4 linked regions of the Homo sapiens genome follow. The protein of the gene in region 3 interacts with the protein of the main gene of each other region in a pairwise test. Each region holds a gene or a part of one and is shown on either strand. Other genes may lie near its edges. The genes, in order: IQSEC1, BOK, GDAP1 and DDX20.

Region 1 (7,052 bases), on a different chromosome or scaffold from region 3:
GCCATTGGGGTAGTCTGCAAAAGGGAAGGAGAGGGGAGGAGGCCCACGGGTCTCAGTGTGTTCTCTGCAATCTCCTCTCTGGTCAGGAAACAATGGTAGGGCTGAGTTGTGCGTGAGCCTGGGATAAGTGCCGGGAGTCCAGCCTCCGCAGTGGCAGGCTGCAGGGGTGCAGAGCAACCTCATCTCCCGACTTGGGAAAGATGGTCTGTGTCGCTCCACATGTGACTCAGGGACAAAAGTGGTCGAGCTCAGGGGAGGCTGCTGGGGCCGCGTCCTGGAGGAGGACAGAGGTTGCGTCCTGAGAAAGGTGGGAGTCTTCTCTAGTCATCTCAGTTCTGGACAGCAGTGAGCGCCATATTCTCCCGAATGGCCTGTGGCCCACAGCTCCCATGGGGTGCACTATGGGCACTCCACAGCCAAGGAACCCTGTGCCCAGACCTGCCTGGTGCCACCTCCGGGCTCTCAGGGTCCCTGGGGCTTTGGTCTCCTGGCGGTGCTGCTCCGGCAGTGGGAGTCACTGGCAGAGCATCAGCCACTGGATGTTTGAAGGTTCTTGGACCAAGTACCAATCCCACCTTGGCTCAGACCAGGTGGGCCTGTGGGCAGCTGCAGAGTGCTCCTGTGTGCATATGTGTGCACATGTATGTATATGCAGCCCATTACTGCCACGTGGGAACATGTGCCTAGTGACACCAAACCTTCTGATTTTCAGAGAGGCCCAAAATATCTACATTTTGATGTAGAGACTGGCTCAGCAAACTTTTTAAAAATATGCAAACCATATAAAAGATAACTGAGCTGGGCCTGCCTCCCAGGCTGTCAGTTTGAGACCCCTGGAATGACGGCATGTCCTATAGAAGCTGCAGGCTTGGCTCTTGCCAGCACCCGGCACCCACGATCTAAGGCCAAGCCCTGGGACCATAGACATGATCCAGGTGCAGCCTCTGCCCTGATGGTCCACAGTGGTCCTGGCCCCCTGCTGGGAGCTTTGCTGCCAGGATCTCACTAAGTTCCCACCCTAGCCCTGGGCAGCAGGGGTCAATGCCACCATCTCAGAGAGCAGGCTACTGCTGGTCAGGACAATGTGGGGATGGCACTGGCCTCCCCTGGGACCAAGGCAAGGCATGACTTGCAGCCTGCGATGGGACAGGAATGGCAGGAGGTGGGGAGGCGGCCAGGGCAGGCATGCCATGCCCCTTGTTGGGCACGTGGGGAGCAGGGCATACAGGGAGTGCAGGGTCTCCTACCGGGCTGTCCCTGGTCCCACTGAAGACTGAAGGGGACAGAGAGCCCCAGATCCAGGCGCAAGGCCTGTGGTTTTGGATGGTCCAGCTGCAGGTCCCTGACACTGTTCTAATCCGCAGATGGAAGGCTGATTAGACAGACAGTGACACCTAGTTCTGAGAGGATAAGGGACCCCTACTGCTCAAGCACGGACACTCAGCTTCTTTCCCTAGGACACTCCAGGTGGCCCCCTGCTCCCCAGCCCAGGAGGACTGGCTCAGCCTCCAACAGGGAAGGGACAAAGGAGGGGGAAGAGAAGCCGTGGAGAGTGAAAGGAGCAAGGTAAAATGGAAGCCAGTGGGGTGCTGCAGGTGTGAGCCTCCCAAACTCCCAGGTCCCCAGGCCTCACCCAGGGCCTTCCAGCAGGGCATCAAAATTAACCCTTGCAAAGCACTGTGTTCCGGCAGCTATGATGGGGGCCCTGTGGCAGGCACTACCTTACAACCCAGGCAACAGAGGCCAGAGGGGTTGCAGAGCCAGGCCACACAGCAGTTGAGCCAGAGCTGGGATCTGACCCAGGCTGAGGGGCTCAGTTCTTCACTTCCGCGGACACTCATGGGTTGCTGTCACCTGTGTTCTGGGCCATGTTTGCATATCACCTATGACTTAATGTTTTTCTATCAACATTTACATAAATGTATTTCTGCCATAAATTTAAAAATCTTATCACCTGCAAGAAACGAAGTACCAGTAAAAGCAAACTGAGTGTCTGTCCAGTGTTATTACATGAGGCTCAGCTGACTGATGGGCCTCTTGAGGGTCTGTGCCTACAGCTCACCGGAGCTCCTAGCTGCAATCTGCTCTCTGGGGATAAAACAGGGGTGAGCGTCGAAGCCCCCCGCGGTTCTGTCCTCGAAGCAGCCAGGAGAAAGAGCGTAAGCTGGGACATGCGCTCTTCCAGGCAGGCCCTGGGGGCAGACTTACACTGGTTCTCGAAGAGCAGGACCTGCATGCCGTACAAGGAGAAGGACTGTCGGAAGCTGTACGTCACCGAGTTCTTCTTCTTCTGGAAGATCTTGGTGACCTAGAGGCAGCCAGAGACAGAGCTGAGCTACAGTGTCTCGGGGGGCACTGACTATGTGGGACCTCTGGTCAGAGGATCCTCCTGGAGTTCAAAGTCAGGAGGACAGGGACAAGCCCACGTGAGTGGAGGGCATGGGCTTCCACTCCAAGACTCGGACAACGGTTCCTGTCCCCGCAACCCCGATGCCATCTTGGCTGGCAACAAAGCCCCACAACCTGACATAGAGGCGGTAGGCACTTCACAGCACGGAGCCCCCTCAAGTGCCTTCTCACAGCCAGGTGAGGTGTACACACCCGGGGCTTGGCACCTTGAGGGGCAGGAATGGACAGGTGGTGCTCACTAGCGCTGACCTTGGTAAGAAGCCATGGCTTCCTTTCTCGGGAACAACCAGAGTGTGAAGCTATGCCTGGTGATGGCCTGCAGGGAGACTGGCCCCTGGGCTAGCGACGTGATCCCTGAATCCCAGCTGGCCCGCCACGGTCCTTGGCTGCTATTCTGGTCTACAGTAGGAAAGGAACTTTCCAGTGTGGCAGCCAAAGGCTGGGCTGGGAGGGGAGAGGGGAGCTCACATCTCCCCGGTCTCCAGGGCATGCCAGGCACCATGTAAGGTCTTACGTCCAGGACCTCACTGGACCCCTGCCACCTTCTGAGAGATTCATCTTACAGAGGAGGAAACTGAGGCTCAGAGATGTGAAGGGATTCGCTCAAGGTCAGGAGTTCTTCATAAAGGATTTGAACTTACACGTCTGATTTCAACATCAGTGGTCAGAGAGGGTTAGCCAGTCCTCATACCCAATCAAGAACATGGGCCTGTAGTCCCAGCTACTCGGGAGGCTGAGGCAGGAGAATGGCGTGAACCCGGGAAGCGGAGCTTGCAGTGAGCCGAGATTGCGCCACTGCAGTCCGCAGTCCCGCCTGGGCGACAGAGCGAGACTCCGTCTCAAAAAAAAAAAAAAAAAAAAAAAAAAGAACATGGGCATCTTTGGCAAGAAAGCCCGTGGCATGCAGGGGTACAGAAATCCAAAGGACAAGCTCTCCCTTCTCTCTGCAGTGGGCACTTCTGCCCCCGTCTGGCTAGCATCCATGCCACCTTTTTTTCTGGCAAGAGCTCCCCAGTTTCCTTTTGGGGAAACCTCCAGCCCTTGTTTCCTTCAGTCCATAGGTCTTGCAGGGACCAGCTCAGGGCTCCAGGAGGTGGGGCTTGGGACCTAGGCCTAGCCAATCAGAAAGCACTGCACCTGCCTGGCCTGGAGAGGCTTAGGGAGGGATGTGCAGCGACAAGCGCTAACTCTGCAACCTCTGCTCAGTCTAGGAAGAGGATTCTACAGTTGCTCAGCAGACAGGATCAGGTCTGGAGCTGCTGGGGCCACCTTCCCCTTCCTGGACAGAGCCTGTCTGAGGAAGGGGCCTGCCCGAGGAAGCGTCACACAAGGTACAGGTGCAGACAGCACACAGGAGTGCTGCTGACGTTGGCAGAGGCTCTGGAAACAGCTGGTACTAAAGCCAAAGATCTCCCTCTGGACCTGTGCATGAGCCAATGAAGTCTGTCTTCATGTGCATCAGTGTGAAAGACACCAGGCAAACCCTCCCTTTTGCACCCCCACATGCATGCACATCTTCCCCACGCAGACAGCCAGACATGGACCCTGGGCTCAGGCTTGAGGTCCCTGCTACAATGCCTTGTGGGTGAGCCACATACCACCAGGAGGTCGTTGAACAGGAAGATTTCTCGCTGGTGTAGTCCGAGTTTCTGGGGCTTGTTTGGGTCTGGAACCTCAAAGAGCCGGCAGTAGCAGACCAACCGACGGTGGGGCAGAGAGAGCACCTGTGTGGGAAGAGGCTGTCCTGCCACGGCCGCCCAGCTCTCCTCTAGGAGCCCTGGGGGCCGCAGTGGAGAAGTCTAGCCCTTCAAGCTAGAAACCCGGCACGTGGGCCTTGAGTTAAAAAATGCCTTCCCTCACAGACATTGAAGAGCAGATACGTCTTTTGGCTCATGGCAGTTTCCCGTACTCTGTTCTCAGGAGCCACTATTTAAAATCCCGTATCTCTGCTCTCCTGAAGGACTAGGGACGTGCCCCAGCTTCTGCTGAGACCTCCTTTCCATTCTTTTGGGCAGGTACCAGGCTTCTTAAACTATCACGTTCACCTGGGAGCCTCTGGCCAGACAGCGAGTCACATTTTGAGTCCCCACAAGTGCCGGTCATAAACATGAGGCCACTCAGCCCTGCAAAAGTCTTTACAGAGAGAATCTGCTCTAGATGAGGAAAAACTGAGGCACAGAAGTAACGACAAAACTAGGAAGTGGCAGAGCCAGGATCCAATTCCAGGCCCCAGGACTTTTCCCACCCAACCAAGCCTCCCCATAAAAGATTCCTATGGTCCTGATGCCTGAAAGACTCTCCAAAATCCTGAGCCAGCAGCCAACACTCTGTGGCACTTGCCCTGGACCCGTCCTCTGCTCCCCACAGCTACCCTGAACATGCCCCTGACAGCTCACGAAAGCTCCCAACACGGTCATAGCTCCAGCTGCCCTTGAGGCCCAATGCCTCAGGGCGAGGGATGAGCCATCAGGGCCTGGCTCTGGGAGTGCCCAGGTTCATGCAGGATGGGGGAGGCGGTCAAAGGGGTGGGATCCCCGGGATCACCGTCCTGAGGCCAGAGGCTTGACTCTACCAGGGGTGCTCTAGGCCAGGGCTGCCTGAGTTTGGCACATCTGGGGGTTAAGATGAGGGGGAAAATGTGGCCCAGCCTGGGGTGCTTAGGTTGCAAAGGTATGAAGGAGAGAGGATGGGAGGGTTCGGGGAGCACTGGCTGGAGGTGGGAGGGGACTGGTCTCTTGCAGGGGAAGCTGGGGAGGGTGAGGGCAGGCAGAGCGGCTTTCAGGACTGAGGGACAAAGCCAGTCCACAAGGAGGGTCATGGTGAGCAGCCCAGTCACCCTGTGTGCATGTGTCCTGGGGCGTGTGGGCACACCACAAAGCTATGGCAGAGGACGGGTCCTGGGGGTGAGGAGGCAGGCACTGGGAGAGCCTGGGGCATGGGATGTGGGGGACAGAGCACAGAGCAGGGCCAGGTAGCGGACAGGGCAGGGCCTCAGAGGACACACCGGGGTCTGTTTCAGGCGCAGGGTCTGGGGGCTGGGCTCAACAGGGCGTCAACAAGAGGGAGCAGGAGTCTCCCCTGACAGCACAGCCTCAGGGCCTGCAGAGATCTGAGGCTGGGGTAATTACGAACATCTGATTCTCAGCACCCCAGCAATGAACTCAAGCAGCCAGCACTTGGGCTCTGGGAGCCTGGGGAGCCGGCGGACTGGCTGATGCTGGGCCTCCCCAGGGCGGCGGGCTACCCACAAAGGTAAAACCAGAGAAATACTCACACAGCCGAGCCCGGGATGCAGGGATCCGATCTGCGGGAGAATGTGAAACCAACAAAAGGGTGTTCATGTTTCAAAGCCACGCCCAGGCCAATGCTGCAAGTGCCCCTCCCTACACCTACCCTTGGGATCCACCCAGCCAGTATGTGGGGTACCCACTCTCTCTGGCAGAGCTCTCTGAGGGGTCCCAGGGGACTCCTGGACCACCCAGGAAAGCCTGCCAGTGTCGGGTGCCCAGAACTCAGCCACTGCACAACCCTGGCCTGCTAGATCATTAAGAGCCTCAGCTCTCTTCAGATTGTAACGCAGAGCCAATAGCTGTTATTCCCAAATATGACAGGAGACACTCGAAAAAACCCCAAGCCCTGGCAGAATTCACCAGCCCTGCTGGAAGAGACCACACGGAGTGGGGTGGGTGGGAGTGAGAAGGCCTGGCAGGCAGCCCCGCCCGGGTGGTGCTGGGGCCCACCACGTACCAGGGCCCATCACATACCGGCTTTTTCCCCACAATGAGCTTCTCCACCTTCTGCACCTGGGACACATGGTCCTCATTGGTCTTTAGCTCTCGCTTACGGATCCGTTCATAGATCCCCATCAGCATCTCACGGGGAATGTCCTCACCATCGTCCACACCTGGGTAGGGGATGCAGCTGGATATCAGGGTGGGCCCCAGGCTCACTCGATTTACCAGTTTCTAAAGCAAATCAGAGGAGCGAACCTTCCACTAGACCCAACAGAACCAAAGAACTCCCAGGCAGGCCCACAGCAACAGGACATTTTCAGTCAACACAAATTTCCTCAGTCCTCCTACCAGAACGGGCCCAATACATCCGACCCGGTCTAGTAGGCGATGGGTGTCAGGGGCTGAGCCACCTCTAAGCCATTTTCAGAGGGCTTTATAAATGCTACCCTGCTCCATGCTAACCACAGCCCTTCGAAGTGGGTATAATCATCTCCATTCCACAGATGGGAAGACTGAGGCTGACGTGTGGGGAGGCTGGAGTATAGGGAGGCTGGGGTTTGTTTGGGCTCCGATGGACCTGGGGCCACGTCCTACTTTCACCCTTACTAGCTGTGTGACTATGGGCGAGTGACTGCCTCAACCATGCTTGGTGTCCTCCTCTAAAACACCTTGCCCACAGCACAGGCTTGTTGTGAGGAAACGAGGGGCGCCTGGGGCGTGCCCAGCTCTGCATCTGAGCGGTGGGAGTGCTGCAGTGGTTGCTGTTGCTGGCCCACATCACATGGGCAGAGGCTGGAGGCTGGGCTCTGACCCGGGGCTGCCCTAACCACAAGCACACACTGCTTCTTTCTTCCTCCCCACTCTGAAAACCGCTGTGAGCAGAGAAACAGCCTTATACATATGGGAAAT
Region 2 (7,098 bases), on a different chromosome or scaffold from region 3:
AGCCTGAACTTGTGAGGTATATACAGGGAGCTGTGGGCTTTATCCTGCAATTACACCAGGACAGTCTGTCTGAGAGTGGAGCCATCACAGGGGAGCACAGATGGAAAGAGACTCCTGGATCCAGCTATGCCTGAAACCAACCGACCTCTCTCTGGTCACACAAATCAACAAACTGCCCTGTGCTTAAGCCAGTCTGGTGGGCTGGTATCAGCGCTCAGAAGCCCACTCACCAACCAGGGACCGAGTTCCATGCTAGGTCAACACTGGGGCAGAGAGAGGAGTCAGTTGCATGGCAAGAGTGGATGTAAGAGTTCTGCAGAGACAGAAAATCAGGGCCAAAGGTGACCGGAGAAATGTAGGCTCCCAAGAAGTCAAAGCACTCTTGGGAAATTGAGGGCTGGGACTGGGCCTCCTCCAGGTCTCAGTGGACAGGAAGACCTCAGCTAACTCCAGCATGACCCAAGTTTTTTAAGGTCTGAATAAGGGTTTGCGGTCTAGGTACTCCAGATTGCTTAATCTCCTCATCTGCTCTCTTTTTAAAATTTGTTTTAGAAACCCGTCTTTGCTAAGTTGCCCAGGCTGAGTGCAGTGGCTATTCACAGGCACTACAGCCCTGAACTCCTGGGCTCAAGCAATCCTCTTGCTTCAGTCTCCCAAGGAGCTGGGACTACTAGTGCGGTGTCACCATGCTGGGCTTGATCTCTTCATAAACACTGAGGTCATTTTTTTTTTTTTTTGAGACAAAGTCTCGTTCTGTTGCCCAGGCTGGAGTGCAGTGGCATGAGCTCGGCTCACCGCAACCTCCGACTCCTGGGTTCAAGCAATTCTCCTGTCTCAGCCTCCCGAGTAGCTGGGATTACAGACATGCGCCACCACGCCTGGCTAATTTTTTGTATTTTTAGTAGAAACGGAGTCTCACCTTGTTGGTCAAGCTGGTCTCGAACTCCTAACCTCAGGTGATCCACATGCCTCAGCCTCCCAAAGTGCTGGGATTACAGGCATGAGCCACCACGCCTGGCACACTTAGGTCATTTTCAGTTCCTTACTGCTAGCAATGTTCCATATTGAACATCCAGAGACACAGCTTTACCTGGTTTCTGCAGCTCCTGGGATGCAGAACATGTCTATCAATTATGCCCAGTGGCCCACTACCCCCATGTCAGAGCCCAGGAGACGGCTCCAACAGGAGACAGGAAGCAGGAAGTATGAGTTCATTCTGCACAGGAGGAAACTGAGCCTGTGAATGGGGCAGGAAGTTGCCTGAGGCTACACAGCGGGAAGGTTGCAGGTGTGAGCTTCCTGGTCTCCTGCCTGCAAGTACAGGCTCTTCCCCTGACAGAGGTACTTCAGGAACCATGGAGTTAGACCCCAAGGTTTACAGTCTGGCCATGCCCAGTCTTGCAGTGACTCCTTGGGCGAGATCTTTTCCCTCTCTGCATTTCTGTAATGCTATCTACAGGGAATCCCAAACCTGACTGCTCTTCAGAAATCTGAGGCGCACACTGTCCAAGGAGCTCTAGACTCTACATTAAAGAGTTCATTAAAATGCACCCTCAGATTTTACTGTACTACAGCTTTTCTGAAAAAGCAGCTAACAATGACTGAGCACTTACTACATGACATGGATTAAGAATTCAGTCCTCCCAGGCTGGGCGCTGTGGCTTACGCCTATAATCCCAGAACTTTGTGATGCCAAGGCAGGTAGATCACGAGGTCAAGAGATCGAGACCATCCTGGCCAACATGGTGAAACCCCCTCTCTACCAAAAATACAAACAATTAGCCGGGCGTGGTGTCAGGTGCCTGTAGTCCCAGCTACTCGGGAGGCTGAGGCAGGAGAATCGCTGGAGCCCAGGAGGCGGGGTTGCAGTGAGCCGAGTTTACGCCATTGCACTCCAGCCTGGCAACAGAGCGAGACTCCGTCTCAAAAAAAAAAAAAAAAAAAAAGAATTCAGTCCTCTCAACAATCCTAGGAGGTAGGTATTATTATTCTTCCTACTTCCCAGACAGGAAAGTCATAGCAGATAGAAGTTCCATAGCTTTCCTAGCTTCTGGTAATGTTCCTGACAGGTTTCGGTATTAAAATTACATTGACCTCATAAAATGAGTTGGGAAATACTCCCTCATTTTTAGTCTCTGTGCAGGTTTGTATGAGACTGGTGGTATTTTTTTAACTGTTGAGAAGAATTTCTCAATGAAACCATCTGAACCTAGAATTTTCTTTGTGGGAAGATTTTAAATTACAGATTCAATGCATTTAATTGGTGTAGGACTATCCAGATTTTCTATTTCTTTTAGTGTCAGTTTTGGTAAGTTGTGTATCATCTAAAATTTCAAATGCACTGTCAAAAAGTCCTCCATACTATCTTTTTATCCCTTTAATGCTTGTAGTATCTACAGTGATGTCCTCTTTTTCATTCTTGATAGTGAAATTTGTGTTATCTTTTTTCTTACTCAATCTTTCTGGGGATTTATCAGTTCTATTAATCTCTTCAAAGAACCAATTTTTGGCTTTGTTGATTTTCTCTATTTTTTGCTTTATTCCATTAATTTCTGCTCTTATTTTTATTATTTCCTTTCATCTTTAGTTTTATTGTTCTTTTCTAGCTTCTTGAGTGGAAGCTTAGAGCAGTAATTTTATTTTTCTTTTTCCTTTTTTTTTTTTTTTTTTGAGATGGAATCACACTCTGTTGTCCAGGCTGGAGTGCAGGTGGGATGATCTCTGCTCACTGCAACCTTCGCCTCCCAGGTTCAAGCAATTCTCCTGCCTCAGCCTCCTTAGTAGCTGGGATTACAGACACCTGCCACCACACCCAACTCATTTTTTGTATCTCTAGTAGAGACGGGGTTTTCACCATTTTGACCCGGCTGGTCTCAAACTCCTGAGCTCAGGTGATCTGCCCACCTAGGCCTCCCAAAATGCTGGGATTACAGGTCTGAGTCATTTCACCTGGCCTAATTTTCAATCCTTCTTCTAAAGCTATCAAATTTCCTCTAAGCAGTGTTTTAGTTGCACTGTACAGCATTTGATATGTCTTATTTTTCACTGTTCTTGTCAACATATTTTAATCTTCCACTGTGATTATTGACCCATTGATTATTTAGAAGTGTGACATGTAATTTCCAAGCATTTGCAGATTTTCCAGTAATTTTTCTGTTATTGACTTTTAATTCAGAGAGGACACACTGTAAGATTTCAATCCGTTGAGATTTGCTGAGACTTGTATAAGGTCCATGATATGGTCTATTTCGATAAACATCCTATGTGCACATGGGAAGAATAAGTATTTTATAGTGTTGTACACACGTGAATTAGGCCAAGTTGGTTAATCCTATTGTTCAAACTGTGTGAGGTTGATTCAAGGATAAAGAAATAAACCAGTGGGATAGAGTTCCGAGACACACACACACACACACACACACTCTTCAGCTGATTTATGTTGAGATGTTGGGGACTCCTCCAATTCGGTGGAAAAAAAATGATGCTTTTCAATAAATGATGCCAGGTCAATTGGATATCTACACGAAAAAAAATGAGCTCTAGCCCCGTACCACACCATTCACAATAATTAATATGTAATCAATCATAGATCTAAATATGAGCCCTAAAACAAGCTTCTAAAAGGAAATACAGGAGGATATCCCAATAAAAAGGTACTAACCATAAAGAAAATATTGATAAATTGGACATCACTAAGAGTAACTCCTGTTCATCCAAAGCAAAAGTAAACCACAAAATAGAGGAAGATATTTGCAATAACTTCAATAAATGCGAATCCAATAATCCATCTACAATACAAAGGGCATGCGTCCGGACCAAGAACACGTCTCCAGACTCTGGAAAGAACCTCTACGAACGAAGAAGACAACCCAATTTTCAAATGGACCCCGGGGAACACCCAGGCGGCTGGGGCTGGCTCTAGGTCCCCACTGCTCTGCCTTGCGGGGGCCGCTCCGGCCTGGTCGCCTTCTCCGGGCGCATCCAGGGAACTCGCTCGGTCCTCCTTAAGCGGGGAAGCTCGGAAAGCGTCTCCCCGACTCCGCCCCCAGGGTTGCCTTTCCCTTAGAAGGCCAAGCCCCAAGCCCAGCCTCTCGCCAGCTGGGAGTCGCGCGCTGCCCACCTCGCTGCCCAGGCCCCCGACGCCGCGGCAGGAGCCCCCCAAGAGCGCGGGAAGCCCCGTGGACCTGGCGCTCCCGGCTCGGGCGTGGACGGGGCGGGCGCCGGGGCGGGGCGCGCGTCCTCGCGGGTCTGAATGGAAGGGTCGAGGTCGTCGTCGGCGGCGAGCAGATCCTGAAGCCAGAACTCCACCCCGGCGCCCGCGCCATGCGGCGGGAGAGGTGAGCGCGGCGGGCGTGGCGTCCGTGCCGGGGTGCCCGGGGTGCCACGGGAACGGCGAGGCCGGGGACACGCGCGCAGGACGCCAGCGGCGGAGGTGGGCGGCCCCGGGCCGGGGCGGGGAGGGCCGGGTCCTGGCAGTCGCCGTGGGGGACGCGCTGGGCTGTGCCCTCCGCCCCCGCCGCCCACGCACTCGTCTTCGAGGGCGGGCCCGGCGGCCCCGGAGCAAACCGCCGTCTCCCCGCGGCCCCACCGGTCCCTGGCAGCCTCGGGGAATGTCTGTAGCTGAATTCGGGCTCTGAAAGAAGGTGGCGCTGGGTTTTTAAAGATTTGGGGCACAAAAAACGAGAGCGGACCCGGCGCCGGCTACGGCCCTTCCCGAGGGCCACGCCCAGCCCGGCGCCCCGCGCGCCCCGTTCCCCGCGCCGCCTCCCTCCACCCGGCTGAGCGCTTGTGCCCGCAGGTGCGGCGCCCCCCACCCGCGTCGCCGCCATGGAGGTGCTGCGGCGCTCCTCGGTCTTCGCCGCCGAGATCATGGACGCCTTTGACCGCTCGCCCACAGACAAGGAGCTGGTGGCCCAGGCCAAGGCGCTGGGCCGGGAGTACGTGCACGCGCGGCTGCTGCGCGCCGGCCTCTCCTGGAGCGCGCCCGAGCGTGCCGCGCCGGTCCCGGGACGCCTGGCTGAGGTGTGCGCGGTGCTGCTGCGCCTGGGTGAGTGCGCCCTGGTGGGATCCCCAGCTGCGCCTCCTCCCCTGCTGGGCCGCAGCCTCCCTCCGAGGCCGAGATGGGGGTCCGGCCCAGGGGCGCCCACCCCCTGCCTGGGACGGCCAGGCGCTCGGGACAGGGCCACCCAGGCGGGTGCTCCCGGATCTGCCCTCTCAGGCCTCCCACGCCACAGGCCCCCCCATCAGCTGCCTGCTCAGCCCAGATTTCAGTCATGCTGGCCATAAACAATAGAAAGCTCCAGAAAGAATAATCTATTAGTGGGTGGCTAAGCTTCCACAGTGACCCTTGTTCTCAGCTGGGCACAGAAACCCTTTGTAGGAGCACGTGTCCCGATGTTTATTTTGGAAAACAGATTCTTGCTGTTACTGGCCGAGATCCCGCCCGCTGCCCTCTGGATTCCGAGGCCTCCGAGGCCCCCCCATTGGAAACTGCGCCCACCGGGCTGGGTAGCCAAAACCTCAGTATTCGTTGGTGCTGTGAGGACATCTGGGGGTGCTCGGTTCTGGGGTCACACACGGTCCACTGGCTGCCCCCACCGTCTCCAAGGTCTGGACCCAAGAGGGAGGGACCAGCCCCACTGTGACTGTCCAGTCCCCTCACCACAGCTGGGCTGTGGCCGTCACCTGGGAATGTTTATGTGATGCCCGAAGAGGGCACATGGGGCGCCTGTGGCTGAGCCCGGGAAGGGGAGGTGACAGCATAGGTGAAACTGAATCGGTGGCTCTCCAGGCAGGGGGTTGGAGTCGGAGGGCACGACCCCGTGAGGGGACACGCTGCCTCCTCTCAGGCTGGCGCTGGCATGGGCTCTAGGTGGCCCCTGCCCTTACGTGGTGGGCTGGGCCCAGAGAGCAAAGCTGTGTAGACCTGGCCTGCCCAGGAGTGTGTGTGGGGTGCAGACAGAATCCATGGGGACCAGCACAGAGCCTCCAGGAGGAGGTGGAGTCCCATCTGAGAAGTTCAGAAGGAGGGAGAGGTCTCTGGGTGGGAGCTAGGGGGTTGGTGGGGCTCCATGAGATCCGCCGCCTGCTGCTGCCTCTAGTCGGGCTCTGAGAATGACCCTAGGGGATCCTTTTAGTGGCCTTCTGAAAAGATGATGCCAGACCCCTGGAATGGCTGGGAAGAAGTCCCAGATGTCTAGGGGGACCCCAGAGGGACACAGCTCAGACCTGCATCTGCCCTCACGGCTGCTCAGGGTCAGTCCCTTGAGGCCAGCGCTGTCTCCCTGCCCTTGGGCAGTGCAGACAGGAAGAAGCCCGGGTTGTGTCCCCACCTTCAGTCTGGGGCCAGCCTGCAGCAGCCCCGGAGATCTGTGTTTGGGAGCTGCCGGGTCAGTCCTGGGAATTTCCATGTCGTCCCCCGCCCCCAGCCAGCCTCTCATGGGCTCTGCTCTGCTTCCAGATCTTAATTAATGAGATACAGAGCAGCCTTTATCAGCTGGGATGGTCCGGTCAGCAGCATTACCCTGTTTGCTTTGGCTGGAGAACTGGCCGGGCTGCGGACTCCCAATCCCAGGGCCCTGTGGCATTCTCGGCACCATCTGCCCCGTGCCTGTGCGCTGCTGCTGCCAAGGGTGCCACAGGCAGCACTGGGGCGGTGGGCCTGTAGGGGCCATCCTCGGCTGCCAGGGGCAGGGCTGATGCAGTGCCACCTCCAAGCACATCCCCTTGGCAGCAAGAGCCCAGGTGGGAGCGTGGCAGTGAGGGTGGCCCAGGACAGCGGCCCAGCCAGCCCAGGTGGGAGCGTGGCAGTGCGGGTGGCCCAGGACAGGGGCCCAGCCAGCCCAGGTGGGAGCGTGGCAGTGCGGGTGGCCCAGGACAGCGGCCCAGCCAGCCCAGGTGGGAGCGTGGCAGTGCGGGTGGCCCAGGACAGGGGCCCAGCCAGCCCAGGTGGGAGCGTGGCAGTGCGGGTGGCCCAGGACAGCGGCCCAGCCAGCCCAGGTGGGAGCGTGGCAGTGCGGGTGGCCCAGGACAGGGGCCCAGCCAGCCCAGGTGGGAGCGTGGCAGTGCGGGTGGCCCAGGACAGCGGCCCAGCCAGCC
Region 3 (7,052 bases):
CCAATCTTCTTTTAGTGACCATGAGACATGCTAGGTCTCAAAATGAATTAAAAGAAAGTGTCAGACAGAATTCCAGGTCTTTAAAATGTTTACATACTACGAATCCTTGTAGTTGCATAAGCCGGGATCATGGAGTCCACAGTTAACTCAGGATGTAAAATGCAGCCATGTGTATAGGCATCCATTGGCAAGGAGTCAAGCAGCTCTCGGTAATGTTGTACCCGTGGGTAATACATGCTTTCTTTATCAGGCATTAACCTGGGTGTTCTTTCTAAAATACACACACACAAATATTGAAGAAAAAGTTACACATGAGTTGTTACACTCAAAAGCAAAACAAAAACACTATCCACTCATCATTAACATTTTCAACATATCTGTATATTCAAAAAACACTGTCTCCTCACCTCAGACATTCATTCAAAGTTTGAAATGGCCTGATGCACCAGACAAGATCCCAAACCATAATCACATTGGTATTCTCTCATTTCTTCACCTTGCAAACTGCACTCAGCCCTCAAGGCCCAGTTATTTATGCCATTTATTCCATGAAGCATTCCCTAACCTCCTACAACTGCCAACATCTGACTGGCTCACATGTGCCTTCTTCTATACATCCATAACACATTACACACACTCTGTTACAGCCCTTATCACACTGTAATTCATTGCATCTTTTTTCCCCATGACTGTCTTCAGGGAAAGGAACCTGCAATCCAGAGTCTAGCACAGTTCTCCACACACTTGAGGCCCTCAATAAAGTTTGGTTAATTGAATGAGGGCTCATTATGGAAAGATAATCAGGGGCTACTCTTTTCTAGGTGCCAACCAACATCAAGAGTGACCCTACTGACACATGTGAATGTGAATGACAATCTATATGGAACAGGAAAGGCCTTTGCTCAAATATCGCAGGTGCACTTTCCCCAGGAATTTCTAACAATTATCTCTGGAAAGTGGGTTCTACATACATCCTTATTTGCTAGTTAAAATCCAAACTGTAGAGTCCTTGAGGGCAGGGACCATGTACTGCTCTCTGTTAAATCCCCAGTGCCTAGTATAATGTTTGACATGTAGTAGGTGTTTAATAAATTACAATGAATACATTCCAAAATTTCCAATTATTATATAGATTACTTGAGCTGGAGAAGTGCTGCAGGAGTTAACATGTACACTCAGATACAAGGGCTGAAAATTTCTCCCAAGATCCCACAGCTAATTAGAGGCAGAGCTAGAACTAAAGTCATCTGATTCCTAATGTAATGTTCTCTTTGATTATACCATCATAACATTTTCAAAGGATTTTCATTTCATAGACTATCGAAAAAGAATAAAAGTGAAGGATGCAACCCAAAGGTCAGGGCTATGTCCCTTCAGAATCTCTTCCTATCTCTGGCTGTCAAACTGTCCCTAAAAAATGTCAGGTCTAATAACTATCACAATTTCAAAATATTAAGATATCTGCAATAACTTAACCATGAACATATCTGTGAGTTCTATTGGTTATCAAAGCCAGAAGCACTCCTGATATTGCCATGGATTGTGCCTACATTGCTAATGGAAGGAAATAATTCCTTTAAATAGAGATACAATTATTCCCTATCCAAGATCTCAAATCTCCTGAATTCTATTCATAAACCCCTAAGCGCAACAGTTCTCACACTATGGTCTGAGGATCCCTGGGTTTTCCTAAAACATGTTTGGGGGATCTACAAAGATATTTTTATAGAAATACTAAGACGTTAATTACTTTTTCACTCTTATTCTCTCTCAAGTGTACAGTAGAAGTTTCCAGAGGCTACAGGAAACATGACTCTATCACTCTGACAGCTAGTGGGATTGTGCTTAACCAGGCTAATATTTTAAGTTTTCTCAGTTTTGCTTTCTAAATGGTAAATATTGATAGCTATGATCCACATAAACAAATGCTCTCTGGTATCCTCAAAGACAAAGGGGTATAGAGACCAAAAAGTTTAAGAACTAATGCTTTAGGGGTCCAAGAACCTCAGGCTAATAACCCTAAATAGTACATTTTCAAATGCTTCCCAAAAGGTCCAAGTAATGGCTAGTGGCTCTGGCTGCTTTCTGGTACTGGGCCCTGGGGCTTCTCTCCAGAAGAGCATACCATTTCCTTCCTAGGAAAGTGAATGAGAGCAGGAAAAACAATGTCTAATTGCTTTCTGGGGAAGATCCATCAGGCCAAGCCCAAATTCTTCAAGGAGGACAAATGTTTAAATCCATGAAAATAATTTTCTTCTACTCAGTGTGCCGTTACTGTCTAACCATTTCCTGAAGCACTCTGTCAGAGCATGAGATACCCACTGAACCCAAGTTATCTCCCCATCTCTCTTTCTTTGTGCGCATCAAGCATGCCCTCTCCAGTATCACAGGGGCACTGCGCTGCCATCCTCACACTGAAGCACAACAGTATCTGCTGCTTCTGATAAAAGAGTTTTTCAAAGGAAAACTGGGAATTTCCTTTGAATTATAGAGGAGATCTTCCCTCTCAATCCCATCCTATTTTATTTTCCAGTTCTTCCGTAGAGTACCTTTATCAAAATACCAAAAGCAAGAATTTTTTTCTCAGTAATGTACCTCAATCAGGAGTGGGAAAGCAACATAAGGCATAGCGGGGCAGGACAGAGAATTAGGGAGTTTTAAGAAGCAGGCAATGAGAGGAGGTCCCAGCATTGGGGAGTGGGATTGCAACAGTGGAAATGAGGCTTGGTATTAAGCTAGAAGAACAAATAAGTTGGCACAAGATCCGACTTGCCGGAAGAACTGAGTAGGGGAAAAGTTTTATATTACACATAAATTTAGGCAGCAAATTATAAACCAGCAGATAGACATAAAGCAGAAAGATTTGATAAACAGCAGAGGAAACCAAAAGAAGCAAAAAATAAAATCAGAAAGAAACAATAAAAGCATTCTGCAGCCATGTAATGGAGACAAATGGGCCTCTACATTCTCAAGTCCCTGTAATGCTGAGTAAAATAACAATGGCTCTGAGCCATTTTTTTAAATTACATTTGGTTTTCCCAAGAGTAAAACATAAAAAGAAATTAGGGGCTTAAAGGCATAAGTTTTCATTATTTTACAAAATTCACTACTCTGGTTACCCATCTTTCCTAGTAAAGGCAGATAAAGGAGGCATTATTATGCCTTGTTTTCAAGAAAGACTCCCCTAGGTCTACTTGTACAACTTTCAAGTCTCCCTTACTACTAGCTCAATGGAAACAGATTAGATTTCATTCCTCACTCTAGCCCTTTGCTGTTTATTTTACTTAGACTGTATAGTGATTGCATCAGTATATAATATGCATAATACAGCTGAATAATATTGTACCCTTCAACTAGTCACACACTAGGCTATTTTTAAAAAATTCAATAATAGGCTGGGCACGGTGGCTCATGCCTGTAATCCCAGCACTTTGGGAGGCCAAGGCAGGCAGATCACGAGGTCAGGAGATCGAGAGACCATCCCGGCCAACATGGTGAAACCCCGTCTCTACTAAAATACAAAAAATTAGCCGGGCGTGGTGGTGCGCGCCTATAGTCCCAGCTACTCGGGAGGCTGAGGCAGGGGAATCGCTTGAACCCAGGAGGTGGAGGTTGCAGGGAGCCGAGATTGCGCCACTGCACTCCAGCCTGGTGACAGAGCGAGACTCCGTCTCAAAAAAAAAAAAAAAAATATATATATATATACACACACACAAACACACACACACACACACACACACACACACACTAAATAATATTAAACAATTAAGTTATGACCTGAGGCAAAAGATATGGTAGCAAACTGATTGATTACAATTCAGTGCTGTCATAACTCTTGAACTAGAAAGAGCAAATCTAAATACAGATAAGAAAAAAAACAAAAAGACCCGGTGTCAAATTATATCAGTTCACTGTATGCATCCAGGATTTTGAGACAAATTTATAGCATTATTGTCAATAAATTTTATGCACTATACATTAAATGTTTAACTACTTTTAACTGGTATTACAGTTAAGACTTTTAACAGAAACATTTTTAATGATGGAAGCAAAAATTCCTTTATCAGACAGTTTGTTCCAATTGTTAGATACATATTATATAGAAAGAGGGCCTCTGAATTTTAATACCCCCAACCTGTCTGCTAAAACTGGACAAATCACAAAGAGAAGAAAAGTTACTTTTTAAAGCAACTTTTACTGACACAATAATCAAAGACTGATATTCTTTTCCATGCCATATGGTATATTTTCTCCACATTTTGTGCTAATCTGCAATTTCAGTATATGTGCTAAAAGGCCTATATTCAACTATATACAAGAGCCTTTTCTTGATGAACACAAATATAAATATTAATTGGTAATTCCTTAAATAACTATTTTTAATATAACAGTGACATCAGAATTAACGTTCTTTTTTAAATGTTACATTTGATGAAATTCAAATGTAACATTTAAATGTATTTTATAAATAACATTGTATCTATAAATTTAGATATCCTAATAAGATTTACGTGATTTTAATATCATACTAGAATAGTTTATTTCCAAACTAAATTCTATTTCCTAAGAATAAATTATATATCTAGACATAAGACATGAACGTGATGTTCAGAGAACTGTTACATTAAATCACAAAAATCCATTATTCTTGATTCCAGGTTACCAGAGTTATTTGGTAGTAATACATATGTTCTAGTATTTTATAGTTATTCCATATAATTTTGATTAGTAGCCAAGTTAAATTTTATTTAAAGAGGTTATGAGTACAATAGATAGATTGAAAAATCCACATTTGTGTGTACATTCACCTTGTCACATCCATTCTTTCTCAGTTTACCTAGTTTGCTTACTCTCATACCTTATCTAGCTTAATCAATTGCTTGCTGTAAAATAACTATTCCTCACCACATGCTCAGAGTTAAAGAGGTATCATGTACATGAAAGAGTCTATAAAACTGTACAGTAATAGCAAGTATATATGTTAAGGACAGATTTGGAATTATCAGCAAACTTATAGAAAGAAATTATCTTTGAAGACTAGCAAGCTGCTAATGATTTCGGATCTTTAAAACATCTCTGAAGTATCCCAGGACCCTATACCAAATTAATACCCAATAAATGGTTACTTAAAGAATAAATGAAGAGATAGCTCTCGGCCAGCTCTTAGTTTGGCAGTCAGGAGCATCATTCATGTCTATACCATTCTTCTGTATGACTGCTTTCCAAAAAAAAATCAAATACAGCCATTATCCAACAGATATTCACTATTTCAGGCTATGACTTGAAAAGGGTGACCTCAGCTACCAAACTACCAATTATTTAATGAACTATCCCGAAAGTACAAGGATAGAAATATGTAAATGTAAACAAAAAAGTTGAAAAATGTTTCTAGATCAGCAAGTCATCGTTTTTCGCATAATCCCCACTGGATCGATAACAAGGGACAGCAAATAACAGTGAAGGACATACTGGTTCACTACATTCTGTTCTTTAGAGGAATGGCTACACTTACAGTCTCCTGTCATGACCATGGGCGACTGCACACCTCATGAAATCCATCCACTTATTCTATCTCATCAACATTCCTCAAAGTTACATCCATAATTGGACAAAATGTCAACTATTCCAAACAGCTCAGAATGCAGAGGGTTACAACTCACCCTGTTCTCAACAAAATTTACAGTTTTCAAAGAACCTGAAATCACACTAGCCATTTGTTTTAACATTGGTAACTTACTATCTATTAACCAGGTTCCCCATTCTTTTGGAATGCAGCTGGTTTTTTAAAACAAAAGTCTCATGCCTATTTTCCTCATAGCCATTTTACATTTAGCCTTGTTAAACTTTATCTTATTTTTCCATTTTGTTGTATTTCCATAAGAAATATTTTATAAGCTAGTCATCACTTTGACTATTTACCTTTTCTGTCATTCACAAATGTAATCGTATTTCTTCCATGTCTATTCAAATCATTGATTTGTTAGGCTCAAGTCAAAAAAGAAGCCTACAAGAACATTACAAGGGATCCCTGTACAGGCTAACATCTGTTTCAATAATTTATTCATTTTAATCATTCAAAATATTTATTAAGCACCTATTAAGAAACATTCACTGTATAAGGCATTGGGGATAATTTTTCATAAGATACACTATTCCCAACCTCATGGTACTTACAGTGGTGTACAATTCAAACATTTAAAATAAAGTATAAAAACAATTATAAGTAAAATGAGAGTCTATAGTTGAAGAGGTAATCTGGTATGAGAAATCTATAAAGTAATATTCTTTAATATGGTAGTTTATTCATCTGCAAATGTGCGTTACAATCTTCTAGCTATATTTGCTCCTTTATTCCACAAGGGTATATGTAACGTAATCGCAAATGTTCTACTTAAATCAAGATATACTATATCTAGAACCATGCCTGGCACATAATAGACAGTTTTTTAGAAGTGTTAGGGACATTCTCCAGCAGTGTAAAACTTAAATTGGTTCCTTTCACTGAGATACACAAAAATTTTAACATATTTAAATAACTATTCACAATCTATTCTAAATTTCCACCAGATTTAAAGACAGTAATTTACACCAGTGCTTACTTAACTAAACACTAATTTATAGCAGTATTCTCAAACTTTAATGTACATACGAATCACATGGGGCTCTTGTTAAAACAAAGATTCTAATTTGATAGGTCTGCAGAGAGCTCTAAGGTTCTGCAGTTCTAACAAGCTCCCAGGTGACACCAATGCTGCTGATGAATGGAACATACAATTAGTAGCAAGGGTTGGTAGAATTCACTTTTCCCCGTCTTTGACAATAGGATGTTTGTCTATCTTGTCTGACTTTCATTCTCCATGAGTTCTTAAAGATAAAGCATCTTAATTATAATTGTGATAACGCTGTTTTTAAAATTTCAGTACTCTGAGATAAACTTCTTCTTGACCTCGATTTATATAACTTAGCCTTGATTTATATAAACTATTGTTCTCTTGCTGTCGTCCTATCTACCATAAGTTTTGGGTCCCTTAATCGTTTTTTCGTCCTTCCCA
Region 4 (2,600 bases), on a different chromosome or scaffold from region 3:
TAAAATCCCCCAGCAATGACAAACTGAACTTGGCTGTATTGTGGGGGAAAGGATGGAAAAAGTAAATTCAATTATATATCAATGACAGGATCTTATTTAAATGTGTAATTAAAATCTCTACTTCTTAATGACATACTGGACCTAATTATGGATTTGCTATCTACATTATTAATTAATTCACATACTGACACATGTAAGAAAAGCCTAATATTGCCCAATCCAAATGACAGGAATCCAAGTTAAGTAGGATTTTAGAATTGTGTTATGTAGGTGTTGGACAATAAATGACAATGGCTGTGGGTGTTTGCTGACAGCCCTGGGGAAAGTGTTTATACTACCTAGACAAGTATGTACACAGGAAAGAAGAGCTTTCCTTTTAAAAAGTGAATACACATCTCTCTACACAAGTGGTTCTCTCATAAAAAATCCAGTTCACAGAAAGGCTTGGGAACCAAAAGCTTAATCATAAAAGGATTTCCAGAGGAAAAAAGCAAAGAATATGTAATTTCCAATTATATTTTTCTAAATCGTAATTTACAGATGCATCAGCTCAGATCCAAGCTCCTCTTGGATCCTAACATTAGAGGTAAAAACTGGGGAAAATTTTCTAGAAGACACAAAATTAGGATGTACTAAGAAGTGTCTGAAGAGAATCAATTCCAGCTTCCACAAAATACTTAAAACTAAGAGCTAGAACTTCCCCTAGCCTACCAGCAGAGCAGGTCACTTGTTAATCTGGACTGTATAGATGAACTTCAGAGGGTCTATGAACCCCTTGAAATTACACTCACAATTCTGTGCTTATGGAATGAGAAATTTCCTGAAGTCAATCTATAGCTATCAGCTGATTCATAAAAGGATCCAAGAACCAAAAAAGATTAAGAGCTGCTCCTCTATCTGAGCAACACAAGTAAGACAGCAACTGATGACCCACAGCTATTTAATACACAGCAAAAATGTGGACAGCTTTCACAGCCTCAAAAGACATTCAAAAGATAAACAACAAACATGTAAATATATTTAAATTTGTTTTTACTAAAAACAAATATTTTTACTGGAAGCTAACAGATCAAATCAAATACCTTTAGGAAAATCTAAAGCAATGTTTAAATATTCCTTCCTGCCTAAAACCTAAGAGGATTTTCTGATCTACCATGCTACAAATTTCTACAAGAATGCACCTCTATAGAAGGAAATGCAGCCTAAGCCCTTTGTAAAGAACTCCACAGCAATAATATTACTAATCAAATCTATTGCTTTTATTGTTTTTAAGTAAGTGGTGGTATATGTCATCTTTTTAAATGTTTCTTTTGGGAAGATCTTATAGAAAATGGCACCCTGAAACTTTCAGCTCTATGTCCCAAAAATTATCTTTCAACAATCTGATGAAGTTTCTTAAAGAAACTCTTAAAAATGAAGATAATATACCTGGCCTAAATCAAAACAATCTGAAAAATGGATGTGTCCCAGTGGAAAGACTCAAGTCTTTTCAAGTTTATCAGAAATGCCACTATACACCACTGTACTATAAGTCGAGGAGGATGGATATCCAAAGGTATCATTTGTTGACAGTTCCTGATGGTCTCAGGTATATCCTATAATCACTGGTTACTATGCATCATTTCTTGTAGATAAATGGTATTCATGTGATAAGCTGCCATCCAACTTGGATGTCTCTGAGCATTCCAATAATATGAATGAGAAGCGGCAGCATAATATTCTTGCCATGCCCTGTAGTAAGCTCTCCAGTACTCCTCATAATCCTGATAGGTATCAGAAAAACTCAGACGTATTTCCCTATGACAGTCATACCAATCATCTTCCTGGGCTTCAGTCTGCAATCTGAAGGAAGACCGCCTGGGTAGGTTTCTCCGGCTCTGCTTAGCTCTCTGGCTAGCCCCCTCTTTAAGTCTTGTCTTCATCTGGATTCCAGGTGATTCTTGATATTTCTCTGGATTGGGGGTGTCACTTCCATTTGGTGGTTGTTCCAAAGAAATACGATCATCCACAGGCGTAGATTCAGAGTCTTTCAGCTGATTATCAGAAGAGCCTTCCAAGTATGACTTATTTCCTTTGCTCTGGGAAGAGGTTCTTGAGCTGTAAGAATCACTGTCACTCTCAGAGTCTCCAGATTGGCTACTACTTGCCAACACAGGGACTCTCTGTTCAATAACTTTATTTCTCACAAAACCATTTTGAGGATTCACAGTCTGATCCCCAGGGCCTGTGTAGTGCCTGATGATTTCCACAGGTTTCTCTAACCCCTCTTTAATATAATGTTCATAATCCTCTACCAATTCAGCAAAAGTCAACGTGTATGGCTGATGGATTTTAAAGGAAGACAGACAAGGAATCTGGGGGAGTGACACAGGTAAAGCTTCTTTGACCTGGTGCTGACTGTTGGTGGAGTTTTCAACGGGAGTCTGAACAGAATTCTTCATTTGCTCTTCGGATTGCCTGTCACAGCCCAGTTCTTTTGGTGACGTTGCTTTTTCTATGATTCCACATTCTGAGTGGCTTTTCACAGGAAGCTTTTGTTTGGTATTATTTTTTGATTTGACTGATAGTCCAGATACAGAATTATTTCTAGAGGAAGCCAT

What was found.
Region 1: the proteins of GDAP1 (region 3) and IQSEC1 interact in binary tests that used the Homo sapiens proteins (3 or more experiments, as listed by UniProt).
Region 2: the proteins of GDAP1 (region 3) and BOK interact in binary tests that used the Homo sapiens proteins (3 or more experiments, as listed by UniProt).
Region 4: the proteins of GDAP1 (region 3) and DDX20 interact in binary tests that used the Homo sapiens proteins (3 or more experiments, as listed by UniProt).

The regions. Positions count from the first base shown.
Region 1 is NC_000003.12:12,909,421-12,916,472, forward strand, and holds part of IQSEC1 (IQ motif and SEC7 domain-containing protein 1), read right to left. Parts: intron 6,314-7,052; coding exon 6,174-6,313; intron 5,714-6,173; coding exon 5,684-5,713; intron 4,134-5,683; coding exon 4,008-4,133; intron 2,309-4,007; coding exon 2,209-2,308; intron 15-2,208; coding exon 1-14. UniProt on the Homo sapiens protein: Guanine nucleotide exchange factor for ARF1 and ARF6. Guanine nucleotide exchange factor activity is enhanced by lipid binding. Accelerates GTP binding by ARFs of all three classes.
Region 2 is NC_000002.12:241,554,657-241,561,754, forward strand, and holds the start of BOK (bcl-2-related ovarian killer protein), read left to right. Parts: upstream 1-4,088; 5' UTR 4,089-4,337; exon of another isoform or gene 4,338-4,487; intron 4,488-4,562; exon of another isoform or gene 4,563-4,798; 5' UTR 4,799-4,827; coding exon 4,828-5,047; intron 5,048-5,414; exon of another isoform or gene 5,415-5,608; intron 5,609-7,098.
Region 3 is NC_000008.11:74,353,356-74,360,407, reverse strand, and holds part of GDAP1 (ganglioside-induced differentiation-associated protein 1), read right to left. Parts: intron 272-7,052; coding exon 98-271; intron 1-97. UniProt on the Homo sapiens protein: Regulates the mitochondrial network by promoting mitochondrial fission.
Region 4 is NC_000001.11:111,765,901-111,768,500, reverse strand, and holds the end of DDX20 (probable ATP-dependent RNA helicase DDX20), read right to left. Parts: coding exon 1,602-2,600; 3' UTR 501-1,601; downstream 1-500.